2 linked regions of the Homo sapiens genome follow. The protein of the gene in region 1 purifies or fractionates together with the protein of each later gene. This does not show direct contact. Each region holds a gene or a part of one and is shown on either strand. Other genes may lie near its edges.

What was found.
Region 2: the proteins of EBF1 (region 1) and ZNF423 purify together in Homo sapiens (affinity purification with western blotting; one study listed by BioGRID). This does not show direct contact.

Annotation. Positions count from the first base shown.
Region 1 is NC_000005.10:158,704,783-158,708,515, forward strand, and holds part of EBF1 (transcription factor COE1), read right to left. Parts: intron 3,392-3,733; coding exon 3,197-3,391; intron 2,855-3,196; coding exon of another isoform or gene 2,787-2,854; exon of another isoform or gene 2,786-2,786; intron 1-2,785. UniProt on the Homo sapiens protein: Key pioneer transcription factor of B-cell specification and commitment. Recognizes variations of the palindromic sequence 5'-ATTCCCNNGGGAATT-3'.
Region 2 is NC_000016.10:49,635,991-49,639,723, reverse strand, and holds part of ZNF423 (zinc finger protein 423), read left to right. Parts: intron 1-849; coding exon 850-3,733. UniProt on the Homo sapiens protein: Transcription factor that can both act as an activator or a repressor depending on the context. Plays a central role in BMP signaling and olfactory neurogenesis. Associates with SMADs in response to BMP2 leading to activate transcription of BMP target genes.

The DNA of each region.
Region 1 (3,733 bases):
GATTGTGTGCAGAGGCTAAAGAGGCAAGTCCCAGAGTGTGGGCCCCACCTGCCAGCACAGCACCTGGGGGTGCAGTGGGCAGAAAGAAGAGCTTAAAGTGAGATGTTTACATTAATTTGACTTTAATTTCTCCATCCGTATGTCCATCACTGACATCTCAAAAGTAGGGATATTTGGTATATGACAGTACGAGCAAACCAAAAACCATTTTCTTTCTTTCTGTCTTTCTTTTTGAAATAGTCTTGCTCTGGAGTGCAGTGGCACGATCTCAGCTCACTGCAACCTGTCTCCCAGGTTCAAGTGATTCTCCTCCCTCAGTCATCCTAGTAGCTAGAACTACAGGCTGCACCACCAGGCCCGGCTAATTTTTGTATTTTTAGTAGAGACGAGGTTTCACCATGTTGGCCAGGCTGGTCTCAAAGACCTGACCTCAGGTGATCCACCTGCCTCAGCCTCCCAAAGTGCTGAGACTACAGGTGTGAACCACCACGCCCAGTCCATTCTTTTTATAGTTGTTTTATCATGCTCAATAGTCAGGGCATGGGATAGGGGAAAATCCAAAAAAGTCTCCTTGACATTTGTTCAATCAGAAGGAAAGGGCAGTGTCATCCACAACAGTGAATCCAGCACAAGGTGTGTCCCTGAATCAGACCTCAAACCTCCCACACTGTGGCCCTGTGTTAGGAAAGGTGACAGAGAGGCACAGACTCAGCAGTTATTCAGAGAAATGGGGACAGTCTCTGTACTTTTGGGATCTGTAATTGGGTAAGAATTGAGTTGGAAAATCCCTGGGAGGACAAATGCACAAACTTTGTATATATCCCTGTCCTGAAGCCATTTCATCATGACTTAAACAGGCACATACCCTCATCCAGATCCTGGCTTTCAGTTGATAACCAGATCTCCTGAAACCCAGGAAGTCATAAGATCTGAGCCCAGCCCCTGTTTCCAACCACTTCCTGCTCCTTCCTAGGACCACAGGGCATGAGAAGACATCGGGCCTCCTGGGAGCTGCCCACTTCTGTCACTGTTGGCCTATGATAGAGCCACTGACCTTCCAATAGTGGGGGCCTTTTCTTCTCCAGTGCTTCCCGTCAACTGCTGATTATAAACCCCATCATATCTTGTTTCTGATGTCAAATCTATGTTTAGCAAGGGCTGAGATTGGCAGCTCAAGAATGGTAAATTTCTGCTTTCCATATGTATGATCATTATTTAAACCTATTATAAGTTATATTCGCTCAAGCATTATATCCCTAGTTTGCCAGCTGGAGGTGTACTGAGGGTGACAAAGCATTATTTTTAGCTGAAAGAGAATGAGATTTGCAGGAATGGGTGGCTCTACTTTGTGGAGGTGGGCATTTTCTATCATGAGTAATATTGCCTGAAATGCAGTTGCACAGGCACGCTTTTTTTTTTTTTTTCCTCTTTCCTCTAAGAAGATGGATTTGCCACTGTATGTTAGAGTGGGGAAGAGCGGCGTGCTCTGTGGGGCGCTGAGTCTGGGCTGTGCTGGGCAGATTTGCAAGCAAGGTTCTGAGGAGTATTTTGAAGAGTCCTCCTGGAGGCAGAAAGACAACGTGATCGGGTGCTCAGGCTCTGGGGTCACATGGCTTGTGTTCCAGTTTAGCTGTACTATTTATTAGCCATGTGACCTGGATCAAATTAAGCCTCAAGTTTCCCATCTGTATAATGGGACTAGTGCTGACATCATACGGTCTTCAGGAGAATCACTATATGCTCATCACAGTGTAAAGCATCCAGCACACAGTATGTGTAGACAAGTAGAAATATGCATGTACTTGTACATAAGAAACAGGGCTGAGATATCCCAGACATGTGCACTGCCTTCCTCACCCCTCCCTGACTTCCAGGCTGACCTCCATCAGTGAGATGCCAGCCACCAAGGGAAGACACTGTGGGAAACTTTGTATGGCTGGGCTTAAGGGCACAGACTCTGATGGGGCTTACATTCATCTCCACCGTTTAACCGACTATGTCTGTGGTCAGGTATTTACCCTCTTTAAGCTTCCATTTTATCATTTGCACAATGAAGACCATAATGGCCCTCATACTTTAGGAAGATGTGAGGATTAAATGGTATAAAATCTGCTCCATGCATAGGACAGCCCCAGGTACACTGTTCAGTGCTCAATAAATGGTGGTTGACTAGTTTACTAATCTTATCTCCCTACCAGCTGCCTTAGGAACCCTGGCTATGTCTCTTTTAGCACCTCTGAATAATAAAGTATTTAGGAGATGAATGTTTCAGTCTGAATTTGAAGCCAGCTTCTGCCATGTATCAGCTGTTAAAAGTCAGGCAATTTCATAACCTCTCTAACCTTTAGTTTTCTCATCTGTCAAATAGCAGATATGAGTACCTACCACACAATCCTGCTGGGGGCAATGAATGAGGTTGTGCAGGTCTCAACATATGACACACAACAGAGTGCTAAGCTCATAAGAAAAATGTAAGAAATGGTGTGCTCAGTTTTAAAAGGTGGGTAACCTTTTATTCTTAATGAAAAGGTCATCTCAACTCTTAGCAACTATTTTATTTTCCAAATGCAATGGTGGGAAAGCGATTGAACAATTTTAATATGAATCAGAATACTCTAGTGGTGTTCTGGGGTTTCTTAATCCCAGTAGGAAGTCTTTGGCCTTTGGTCTATGATGATCTAACTTCAGGGCTCTGATCAAGTTATGGCTCACCCCCTCCCTGTTATCAGCCCCACACACGTTCACTCTGACACAGGCAACAGGAAGGGAAGGTTGAGTGACCTACTTCAGGAGAAGGCCAGTCCCGGGAGAGACCCTGCACTGGAGAACTTGCTAGAGTCCACAAAAGACTGATCTGATAATGGCGACCACAAGGAGTGAAAGAGGAGAAAAGAGAAATGATGCTGTTAGTCAGTAGAAACAGTATTCCCAAGCAAATCCCGGGCCTGAGCAGAATTGCTGAAGTTGGAAAGAGGACTTCTTGAGCACCTCCAGCAGAGGAGAGATGAGTATGGCCAAGGGCCAAGGGCCAGGGTTGAGGAGAGCAAATACAAAGGAACAGAAGAGATGAGGGCAGAGAGAATCAGGCAGGGCCCAAGGCTGATACCCTCAGCAATGGTGATGCATCTGCTTCAGGCCCTGGGAGGGTGAAGTCAGGGCATTGAATCTGGATTGGCAGGTGGGGCCTGGGGCTTACCTTGCAGGCTGTTCCCGTTGGTGCTGGTGCAGGTGGGAGGTGGGGAGGTCTGGGGTCTGACGACTGGTGCGAAAGCACTCTTCTGTTTCACGGCTGAGACCATGTTGGCTGGTGAGAAGGAGAAGATGCCCGAGGAGCTGCTGCAGTTGGAGGGGAGGCTTGTGGAGGAGGCCATGGTGGGGCTGGATGGCACTACTGAGAGGGGCAATGAGAAAGGAGAAATCAGTGCCTTTCATGGCATCCTGAAGCAAAGAAGCTCAGATCCATCCCTCACCCAGCCACCTTGCTCTGCCCTGCTCAGACGATGCTTCCAGCACAAACCTTCCCTGAATTCGCAGGCTCTCATCCACTTTCACTATACAGAACTTAGCACGTGCTACCTTTCATTACTGGAGATCTTTTATGTGTTTATTGTGGGGCCACTGTGTGCCAGGCAGTGTGCTAGGCACTAGGGTCATCAGCAGCAATTGTCATTAAGGGAAAATGACCCCTGGTCATCAGCCCAAGGCACTAACCAATCCAAATGCACCGAGTGCC
Region 2 (3,733 bases), on another chromosome or scaffold:
AAGGGTCCGCCTGGGTCTGAGCTCTGTGGCCTTCCATGTCCTCATTCATCCTCCAATCACTGTCACCATCTCTCCATCTGTCTTGATCCTGGGTGGGGTTGGGGCAAATCCAGGGGTGCAGTGGGAACAAAGAAAACAAGGGTCTCAGGATGGCCTGGGCCAGGAAACCCACAGATGCCTCTTCAGTGCCCTAGGTTCCCTTCCCACCTGAGCACTGAAGTCTGCTGTCTCTTGCCCTGTGATTTCACACCTCCTATGTCTTGTCTACCACCTGAAGCAGCAGCTTCCAGCTCCATCAGTCCACCCATACCCAGAGAATGGTGCATTCTATGGCCAATCTGATAAGGGCATTTTTGTTGTTGCAAAATTTTGCCTGTGTTCATAAGGACCAGTGGGATTTCCTTCCCTCCAGGATTAGGGATTTGAGGGGAGTTGACTCCCAGGTGTGGATCAAGTGACAGGACTTGTCTTCCTTTTGGCCTATGGGACTGGTGGTCTGTGAGTTCGTTTCCAGTGACTTTGTCCAGGCTGCCCCTCCTTTCCCTATCAGGAAAGTGGCCGAGAGCCTCCCCTCTGATGGGGGGTATCATGTCCTGCCAGGTCCAGGCAAGTGTTGTGAAGGGAAAAGGCGCTCCCCCTTCATTATCTGCCGCCCCTCTGGCGTGCCCTCTGCAGACAGGAAGGCCCTGGTGTCCACTTGCTTCCGGCCCCTGCCCCTCCCCACAGCCCCCTGCAGCCGTTGGCCAGCTGCACAGCCTCAGCCCGCGTGCTGTCGAGAAGCTGGCTCTGTCCTTGTTTCTCGGCAGCCCTGGGAATTGCCTCTAATATCCTCTCTGCCTTCTCTTGCAGATGGTGATGACGACCCACAACTCTCCTGGGTGGCCTCGTCTCCCTCCAGCAAGGATGTTGCGTCACCCACGCAGATGATCGGAGATGGTTGTGACCTCGGCCTCGGCGAGGAGGAAGGGGGCACGGGCCTGCCATACCCTTGCCAGTTCTGCGACAAGTCCTTCATCCGCTTGAGCTACTTGAAGAGGCACGAGCAGATCCACAGCGACAAGCTGCCGTTCAAGTGCACCTACTGCAGCCGCCTCTTCAAGCACAAGAGGAGCCGTGACCGGCACATCAAGCTGCATACGGGCGACAAGAAGTATCACTGCCACGAGTGCGAGGCAGCCTTCTCCCGCAGCGACCACCTCAAGATCCACCTGAAGACCCACAGCTCCAGCAAGCCCTTCAAGTGCACTGTGTGCAAGCGCGGCTTCTCCTCCACCAGCTCGCTGCAGAGCCACATGCAGGCCCACAAAAAGAACAAGGAGCATCTGGCCAAGTCGGAGAAGGAAGCCAAGAAGGACGACTTCATGTGCGACTACTGCGAGGACACCTTCAGCCAGACGGAGGAGCTGGAGAAGCACGTGCTCACCCGCCACCCGCAGCTGTCCGAGAAGGCGGACCTGCAGTGCATTCACTGCCCTGAGGTCTTCGTCGACGAGAACACACTGCTCGCCCATATCCACCAAGCCCACGCCAACCAGAAACACAAGTGCCCCATGTGCCCTGAGCAGTTCTCCTCAGTGGAAGGTGTCTACTGCCACCTGGACAGCCACCGGCAGCCCGACTCCAGCAACCACAGTGTCAGTCCCGACCCTGTACTGGGCAGCGTGGCCTCCATGAGCAGCGCCACACCCGACTCCAGCGCCTCTGTGGAGCGTGGCTCCACCCCGGACTCCACCTTGAAGCCGCTGCGGGGGCAGAAGAAGATGCGGGATGACGGGCAGGGCTGGACCAAGGTGGTCTATAGCTGCCCCTATTGTTCCAAGCGGGACTTTAACAGCCTGGCCGTGCTGGAGATCCACCTGAAGACCATCCACGCGGACAAGCCCCAGCAGAGCCACACATGTCAGATCTGCCTGGACTCCATGCCCACCCTCTACAACCTCAACGAGCACGTTCGCAAGCTGCACAAGAACCATGCCTACCCTGTGATGCAGTTTGGCAACATCTCTGCCTTCCACTGCAACTACTGCCCCGAGATGTTCGCCGACATCAATAGCCTGCAGGAGCACATCCGCGTCTCCCACTGCGGCCCCAACGCCAACCCCTCTGACGGTAATAATGCTTTCTTCTGCAACCAGTGCTCCATGGGTTTCCTTACTGAGTCCTCCCTCACCGAGCACATCCAGCAGGCCCACTGCAGTGTGGGCAGTGCCAAACTAGAGTCTCCGGTGGTGCAGCCCACGCAGTCCTTCATGGAGGTCTATTCCTGCCCCTACTGCACCAACTCCCCCATCTTTGGCTCCATCCTGAAACTCACCAAGCACATCAAGGAGAACCACAAGAACATTCCACTGGCCCACAGCAAGAAGTCCAAGGCCGAGCAGAGCCCAGTCTCGTCCGATGTGGAGGTGTCTTCCCCGAAGCGGCAGCGGCTCTCAGCAAGCGCCAACTCCATCTCCAATGGGGAGTATCCTTGCAATCAATGCGACCTCAAGTTCTCCAACTTTGAGAGCTTCCAGACCCACCTGAAGCTGCACCTGGAGCTGCTGCTGCGGAAGCAAGCGTGCCCCCAGTGCAAAGAGGACTTTGACTCCCAGGAGTCCCTCCTGCAGCACCTGACAGTGCATTACATGACCACGTCGACCCACTATGTGTGCGAGAGCTGCGACAAGCAATTTTCCTCGGTGGATGACCTGCAGAAGCACCTGCTGGACATGCACACCTTTGTGTTGTACCACTGCACCCTGTGTCAGGAGGTCTTCGACTCCAAGGTGTCCATCCAGGTGCACCTGGCGGTGAAGCACAGCAATGAGAAGAAGATGTACCGCTGCACGGCCTGCAACTGGGACTTCCGCAAGGAGGCTGACCTGCAGGTGCACGTCAAACACAGCCACCTGGGCAACCCGGCCAAGGCTCACAAGTGCATCTTCTGTGGGGAGACCTTCAGCACCGAGGTGGAGCTGCAGTGCCACATCACCACACACAGCAAGAAGTATAACTGTAAGTTCTGCAGCAAGGCCTTCCACGCCATCATCCTGCTGGAGAAGCACCTGCGGGAGAAGCACTGTGTGTTTGATGCTGCGACCGAGAACGGCACGGCCAATGGGGTACCCCCAATGGCCACCAAGAAAGCTGAGCCTGCTGACCTGCAGGGCATGCTGCTTAAGAACCCTGAGGCACCTAACAGCCATGAGGCCAGCGAGGATGACGTGGACGCGTCGGAGCCCATGTACGGCTGTGACATCTGTGGGGCGGCCTACACCATGGAGGTGCTGCTGCAGAATCACCGGCTGCGGGACCACAATATCCGGCCGGGCGAGGATGATGGCTCACGCAAGAAGGCTGAGTTTATCAAGGGCAGTCACAAGTGCAACGTTTGTTCACGGACTTTCTTCTCGGAGAACGGGCTACGGGAGCACCTGCAGACGCACCGGGGCCCTGCCAAGCACTACATGTGTCCCATCTGTGGTGAGCGCTTCCCTTCGCTGCTGACGCTCACCGAACACAAGGTGACCCACAGCAAGAGCCTGGACACGGGCACCTGTCGCATCTGCAAGATGCCCCTGCAGAGCGAGGAGGAGTTTATTGAGCACTGCCAGATGCACCCTGACCTGCGCAACTCACTCACGGGCTTCCGCTGTGTGGTCTGCATGCAGACAGTCACTTCCACGCTTGAGCTCAAGATCCATGGCACCTTCCACATGCAGAAGCTGGCGGGCAGCTCAGCGGCGTCCTC